2 linked regions of the Homo sapiens genome follow. The protein of the gene in region 1 binds, or shares a complex with, the protein of each later gene. Each region holds a gene or a part of one and is shown on either strand. Other genes may lie near its edges. The genes, in order: EXOSC8 and EXOSC5.

The links.
Region 2: EXOSC8 (region 1) and EXOSC5 share a complex: the UniProt entries of both Homo sapiens proteins name them as parts of the RNA exosome core complex.

What each region holds. Positions count from the first base shown.
Region 1 is NC_000013.11:37,003,469-37,006,949, reverse strand, and holds part of EXOSC8 (exosome complex component RRP43), read right to left. Parts: intron 2,435-3,481; coding exon 2,389-2,434; intron 1,031-2,388; coding exon 925-1,030; intron 836-924; coding exon 790-835; intron 1-789. UniProt on the Homo sapiens protein: Non-catalytic component of the RNA exosome complex which has 3'->5' exoribonuclease activity and participates in a multitude of cellular RNA processing and degradation events.
Region 2 is NC_000019.10:41,387,192-41,391,008, forward strand, and holds part of EXOSC5 (exosome complex component RRP46), read right to left. Parts: intron 2,715-3,817; coding exon 2,574-2,714; intron 413-2,573; coding exon 323-412; intron 1-322. UniProt on the Homo sapiens protein: Non-catalytic component of the RNA exosome complex which has 3'->5' exoribonuclease activity and participates in a multitude of cellular RNA processing and degradation events.

The sequences.
Region 1 (3,481 bases):
AAATTAAAGTCTTCTAATGGGTAGAACATGCTATTAGCTTAGACTTAAGAACCACAGAACCCTTGGTTAAACAAGCAAGATAACTTTCAAGGCTCAAAAACCTTAAGAAAATGCTTCACCTTTTTAAAGTTCTATAGAAAACCAGAAGAAAGTGGACAGGTTTTGTGAAAGCTGGCTTTTGATTGCCAGGCTGACAAATGACAAACATGTCCATTTCCCTTAATGGAGCTACAGATGTAGAAGGAATTTCCATTCTCATTGGGAGGTTACAGATAAGGGAGATGGTTTTGAAAGCCCTAGCTAAAATTCAAAATGCACGTTCTCATAATACATGAAATGTTTAAGTTTTACAGTGCTAATGTATCAGTTTATATGATCTAGTAGGAAAGCCTCTCTAGGTTCTAATCAACCTAGTTTTACATTTTCAAATAGACTTTGGAATCTACTGTGTGGATTCACCATAAACATATGTTAACATGATTAATGTTATAATCTGCTATAAGGAATAAAAAATGATTGAACTTTAAAAGTTAAGGGGGAAAAAAATTACTTCAGTTTAAAAGGTAGCTCCCAGACAGGCAGTAAGTTAGTCAAACTTGTTTTTTTATAAACAATATGGTTCATTTAGAGAATTATAGAGTAAGAAATTACTGAATCTCTAAAATCTGTAAGACATCCATATTTAAAGCTACTTTGATTGGTGGTTTTAATTTCCTTGTTCACTTTCCCCCACAAAAAAAAAATCCCTTCAGAATTAATAAGAACTTATAGCTTCTCTATTCCTCTTACCTTTCCTGGAGAAATGCATAAGTCCTCTTTCTGAATTATCTGTGAACTTGATTTAATGACAAAGAGCAAAGTAAATGAAAAGCCCAAAACTATCTGAAAATGAATTGTAATAAAATTTTATCATGGTGCTCTTACTTTTCAATGACATCTGCAATGAACTGGCTAGCCACTTGGGCCTCTTCTCCAGGAGGTCCAGACCGGAATCTCGATGAACACAGGGGTGGTAGATCCACATTAGGAACTGAAAGAAACACTCTGCAGCTATGAACTAAACCTTTTTTTTTTTTTTTTTTTTTTTGAGATGGAGTCTTGCTCTGTTGCCAGGCTGGAGTGCATTGGTGCGATCTCAGCTTACTGCAACCTCTACCTCCCAGGTTCAAGAGATTTCCTTGCCTCAGCCTCCCAAGTAGCTGAGATTACAGGCACACGCCACCACGCCCGGCTAATTTTTTGTATTTTAGTAGACAGGGTTTTACCATATTGGCCAAGATGGTCTCGATCGCCTGACCTCGTGATCCGCCCGCCTCAGCCTCGCAAAGTGCTGAGGTTACAGGTGTGAGCCACCATGCCCGGCCTAAACTTTTCAATTTATGGATTACTGAAGTGTTAAAGGTATTATCAATCCACAGTAAAGGCAACTGTGGCCATGGACAGGCTCTTCTGAGTAGAATACATTGTAACATTATAGTTATATTCTGTTTGGTCTCTCTAAGACTCCCAGCCATGAAATTTCTATTTTTCTGACATTTTTCCCCCATATGCCTTTTTAAAAAATCTATTTTAGACCTCAATTCTAAATCCTTTACGAGTTTTCCTGGTATCTTTCAAAATACCTCAATCTGTAACTGAAGTATATATAGCCCCTCTGCTAACATCCAACTGTTTTTCTCATTTAAAAAAAATGTTGGTTCCTACCATAAAGAACAGATGGTTCCAAGGCAAGAAAAAAATAGCAGTTGTATAAAGCAAAGAATCTTTATGGAAACAAAAGGTGTGCAATGACAGTTCTTTGACTTAAAAAAATTCCATTCTATTTTTTTTTTCTTTTGAAACAGGGTTTCACTCTGTCACTCAGGCTTGAATGCAGTGACACAATTATAGTTCATTGTAGCCTCAACCTCCCAGGCTCAAGCAATCCTCCTGCTTCAGCCTCCCAAGTAGCTGGGACACAGGTGTGCACTGGCACACCCAGCTAACTTGATTTTTTTTGTAGATACGGGGTCTCCTTTGTTTCCCAGGCTGGTCTTGAACTGCTGGGCTGAAGCGATCCTGCTGTCTTGGCCTCCCAAAATCCTGGTATTATAGGTGTGAGTCACCACACCCAGCCAAAATTCTATTTTCTTGGTTAGTAACTTATGAATGTATAAACAAAAATTGAGCAAACAAGTTTGATAAAGGTTAAATTTATGAAATTCTATATCCTGCTATTATGCTATCTTTTACTAACACACGGAAAACTTTTGAGGAATTTGTTTTATTCATAAATATTTCCGAATATTAGGAATAATTTTCTTTACATCAACTTAACTAGGACTTAACTAAAAATTATTAAATGTGTTAAAAGTATTTGTATTAAAATTACAAAACCATTTAACTTACCAACGTATCCTTTATCAGGGGCATCTGTTGATGGTGCTGCAAATTCCTATAGTAGCAAAGAAATGTTTCCTATTGAAAGAAGCTACTGAAAAATTATGAAGACAATTTAGCAATCAGTTATGGAAGGCTCTATCAAATATCAGCTTAGGGAATTGTGTCAGGGCCTCTACGGACATTGGTGCTGATCCTCACAATAGCTCTACAAGATAAGAAGGCACTACAGTACAGTGGACTACACTACAGTGCTGCTCGGCAAGATTACCTGGAGATCTTTTAAAAAATAGTAACTGGGTTTGTGCCCCCAACTACTAGCCAAGAATCTTAATTTGTTCTCCAGATGATAGAGCAAGATTTAGGAACTGCTGCTTTAGTGGTAAAGAGCAAAAGCTCAGCTGGGCGCGGTGGCTCACACCGGTAATCCCAGCACTTTGGGACACAGAGGCGGGCGGATCACCTGAGGTCAGGAGTTTGAGACCAGCCTGGCCAAGATGGCAAAACCCCGTCTCTACTAAAAATACAAAAATTAGCCAGGCATGGTGGCGGGCGCCTGTAATCCCAGCTACTTGGGAGGCTGAGGCAGGAGAATCACTTCAACCCAGGAGACGGAACTTGCAGTGAGCTGACATCGTGCCACTGCACTCCAGCCTGGGCGACAGAGCAAGACTCCGTCTCAAAAAAAAAAAAAAAAGCAAATGCTCTGCAATTACTAAGCCAGTTCAAATGTCAGAGCCATACTTACTGGCTGAGAGACTTCAGGCAAGTTATTTAACCTCTTACCTTAAACTCCTCATCTTGTCAAATGGGAAGAAAATAGTGTCTACTCCTAGGGACTGTTAATAAGGGCCAAATGAGATAGACCTGTTAAATCCCAGGCATAAAACCTGACAAGGAGCAAGTTCTCAAATCTTACTGTTATACATCACTCCAGGTTTACGAAAGAAGAATCTCAACTGAGGTTAAATAACACAGGGTATACTGTAGTCAAAGAAGCACAGGCTTTGGAGTCAGATTTATGTCTAAGTTTTACTTATGAGTCTTATGTACCTGGACAGGTTACTGAAAGTCATCTGTAAAACAGGAGGTGAAGACAAGT
Region 2 (3,817 bases), on another chromosome or scaffold:
GAGTTTCCAGGCTCTGCCCCTTAGCCTGAGACCTGGAATTCCCATGGCTCACCACTCTGAGCTGGGAGCTGGGGGACCATCACATGCCCTCTTCTGACTTCAAACTGAGCTCATCCTCTTTTTGCCTGTGTTATAAATTGGGCTTCCCTTAAACATTTCCGCAAAGGTTTCTGGGTCCACAAAGTTTGAAAACTCCCTTTTTACAAGAAGAAATTTAAGAGGCTCTCCTGAAGCCTCTCAGAATCCAGGGCAGAGTTGGGACAAGACCGTATGTCAGTGGGAAGGAAGGTTCTGGCTTTTCCCCTCATCCCCATGCTGGTACCTCAGTGTCTGAGTAGAGCCCCTTGGTGCTGGACATCAGCAGCTTCCGTTCCACGCTGTCCAGGGCAAAGGTCAGGACTGCCCGGGCCTCCTAGGGACAAGGGGTAGAAGGCGGTGGGGGACCTAGGACCTTCCCCTCAGATAAAATCTCAGCCAGTCCTTTGGCCAGGCACAGTGGCTCATGACCATAATCTCACCACTTTGGGAGGCCAAGGCAGGGCACTGCTTGAGGCCAGAAACTCAAGACCAATCTGGGCAACAGAGGGAGACCCCATCTCAGAAAAAAAAAAAAAAAAAAGGTAGCTGGGTGTGGGGGTGCATGTCTGAGTTCCCAGCTACTCAGGAGGCAGAGGTGGGAGGACTGCTTGAGCCCAGGAGTTTGAAGCTGCAGTGAGCTGTGATCGTACTACACTCCAGCATGGGCGACAGTGAGACCCTGTCTCAACGCTCCCCTTCCCACCACACACTTGCAGCCAGTCCCACTGAGGGGACTCCGGACCCTTGGCCTCCAGGCCTCTCCCTTTCCATAGCCAGGCGCTCACCTATCAAGCATCAAGCGCAGCCATTTTTTGTCTACGCTACCCCTTCCCTACTTCCCTGGGTATAGCCCTCTGCCTTTCCTTTGTAGAACTGTACTCCATGCCCCTTATTCCAACCACGTGGTTCTGACAGGGGCTTCCAAGCTCAGTATTCCTGCCCCAAGGGGCTAGCCATAGTGCCACTCACTTATCTGGTACCTCTCGGCCTCCCAGTCCCCCTTCCATGCTCTGTCCCACAGGGGCTGGAAGCCAGCAAGCTGTATTTCCCAGACTCCCTTACCAGCTAGTTTCCATCAGTAATGAGGTGGGAGAATGGAAGAAAAGCAGCACCCTGGTCCTCATGGACAATGGCAGGTGCTGATGGCTGTGGCTGTGTGACAGCCATGGAGGTGGGGTGGGTTCTGGACCTCAGTGGCCAGGGCAGAAGCAGGACATGCTATGTGCATCCAGAACCAATTGAGATGATGTCTCCAACACGACAGAACAGGAGGTGGCTCGCAGGTTCAGTCCAGGTCTGGGAGGGGTTTCTCATCTCTGGGTGTCACTCCTGCTTCCTTTTTCCTCCTCTAGTTCCTCAACACTGTTGTTACAAAGTCCCTGCATTTAACTCCCTCCATCTGAAACCCTCCAAGTGGTTTCCGTCTTCTTGACTAGAGGGGACCATTATAGCACTGGGCAGAAAACTCAGAATAACTTGAGCTTAGGACACTGCACCTGAGCCGATGAGGAAAACTCTCTTCTCGTTTGCTTTTGAGCCTCCTAGGATGGAAATGGAGCTTAAGGGGTCAGTCCCAGCCTCAGGAAAGGTGCTGGCCAGAAAGAATGAAGCTGATGTGCAGAGAAAGGCAGGGACGAGAAGTGAAGCAAGGACATCCTGATGGTGTTTAAAGTCCTGGTTTTATTTTATTTTATTTTTGAGAGTTTCACTCTTTCATCCAGGCTGGAGTGAAGTGGTGCGATCTCAGCTCACTGTAACCTCCACCCTCCAGGTTTAAGTGATTCTCCTGCCTCAGCCTCCTGAGTAGCTGAGATTACAGATGTGTGCCACCATGCCTAGCTAACCTTTGTATTTTTAGTAGAGACAGGGTTTTGCAATGTTGGCCAGGCTGGTCTTCAACTCCCAGCCTCAGGTGATCTGCCTGCCTCAGACTCCCAAAGTGCTGGCATTACAGGTGTGAGCCACCACACCTGGCCATACATTTCCTTTCTAGTTTATTTATTTATATTTTTTGAGATGGAGTTTCACTCTTATTGCCCAGGCTGGAGTGCAATGGCGCGATCTCGGCTCACCACAACCTCCGCGTCCTGGGTTCAAGCGATTCTCCTGCCTCAGCCTCCTGAGTAGCTGGGATTACAGGCGTGCGCCACCACACCTGGCTAATTTTGTATTTTTAGTAGAGATGGGGTTTCTCCATGTTGGTCAGACTGATCTCGAACTCCCGACCTCAGGTGATCCACCCACCTCAGCCTCCCAAAGTGCTGGGATTACAGGCGTGAGCCACCGCTCCCGGCCCCACATTTCCTTCCTAATTAAGCAAGTCTGAGCTGGGTTTCCAGCACTTGCTGCTAAATGAACCATGATGATTAGAGCAGCCCTTGCTAAGTGGGATTGAGGTGGCATGAGCCGACTGTCTGTAGAGAAGCGAGGCCTGGAGGAAGGGACGGGCAGCTGTCTGGCCTCTGCCCTTCAGCCACCCTGGTCTTCACACCTACCTTTTCTTGCTTGGATGTAGGATCCAGCACGAGGGTCCCATCAGAGTCCAGGGCGCAGGCGACCCCACAGAAGAGAGCCCGCATGGGCACACCTGCATCCACCAATGCCATGCAGGCGGCATTCAGACAACAGGCCAGGAGCTGAGCACCACAGGAAATGGTTAAGTTTCTTTTTTTTTTTTTTGGAGATGGAGTTTCGCTCTTGTTGCCCAGGCTGGAGTGCAATGGTGTGATCTCGGCTCACTGCAACCTCCACCTCCTGGGTTCAAGCAATTCTCCTGCCTCAGCCTCCTGAGTAGCTGGGATTACAGGCACCCACCACCACACCCGGCTAATCTTTGTATTTTTAGTAGAGATGGGGTTTCACTATGTTGGCCAGGCTGGTCTGAAAACTCCTGACCTCAGGTGATCCACCTGCCTCGGCCTCCCAAAGTGCTGGGATTACAGGCATGAGCCACCACGCCCAGCCTAAGAAGTTTCTACTGTAGGCCTGGCCAGCAGAGCAGATCCATGCCTCCCTCCACCAGGCTGATGCCTATGGCAGACATCACTAATCGGTCACAGAAGGGCAGTATGGCAGAGTGGTTAAAAGTGGTCCGGGGATCAAGTAGCCCTGGGTTCCAGACCTAGTTTTGCTCAGCTGTGTGACCTTGAACAAGTGACTTACTCCTTGAGTCTCAATCTCCTCATCTGTTAGATGGGGAATATAATAATATTCAATAGGTATGTACTGAAGTACGTACCACACATTTGTTGGCAAATAGGGTCAGAGAGGGGAAGAAACCTTCCAAAGACACGAGGGGGAGGCACTGGCAAAGCCAGGCCCGAAACTTGGGTAGCAGCCACTCCCCGGTGACAGAGCTGGCAGGGCAATGGAGGAAGAGCCACCTCGCTGCTGCCTGCAGGAAGCTCACAGTGGAAAGAGAGCACAGGTTGGGAGTCAGCTGGCTCTGCCTCAGTTTCCTAATGTGTTTCTTCTCCAGGCCTAGCAGCCAGACAAAGACCACAGCTTTAGTCAACCGGTTCCAGCTCTGCTGCTGATCCTCCACGCCTTCCTCTGGGCTTCACTTTCCACTTCTGTAAAATGGGGTCACAATACCTTCTCTCTCTGCCCATCCATAAAATGTCTGTCCAGTTCAGGGCCACGTTCCAGTAAAGCCTTCTACAGTGTCTAATTCTAGTCCTCAACCTCAACCTCTCGCACCTCAGACATGGAGATCTTACAAGGCCACGCTCCTGACTCA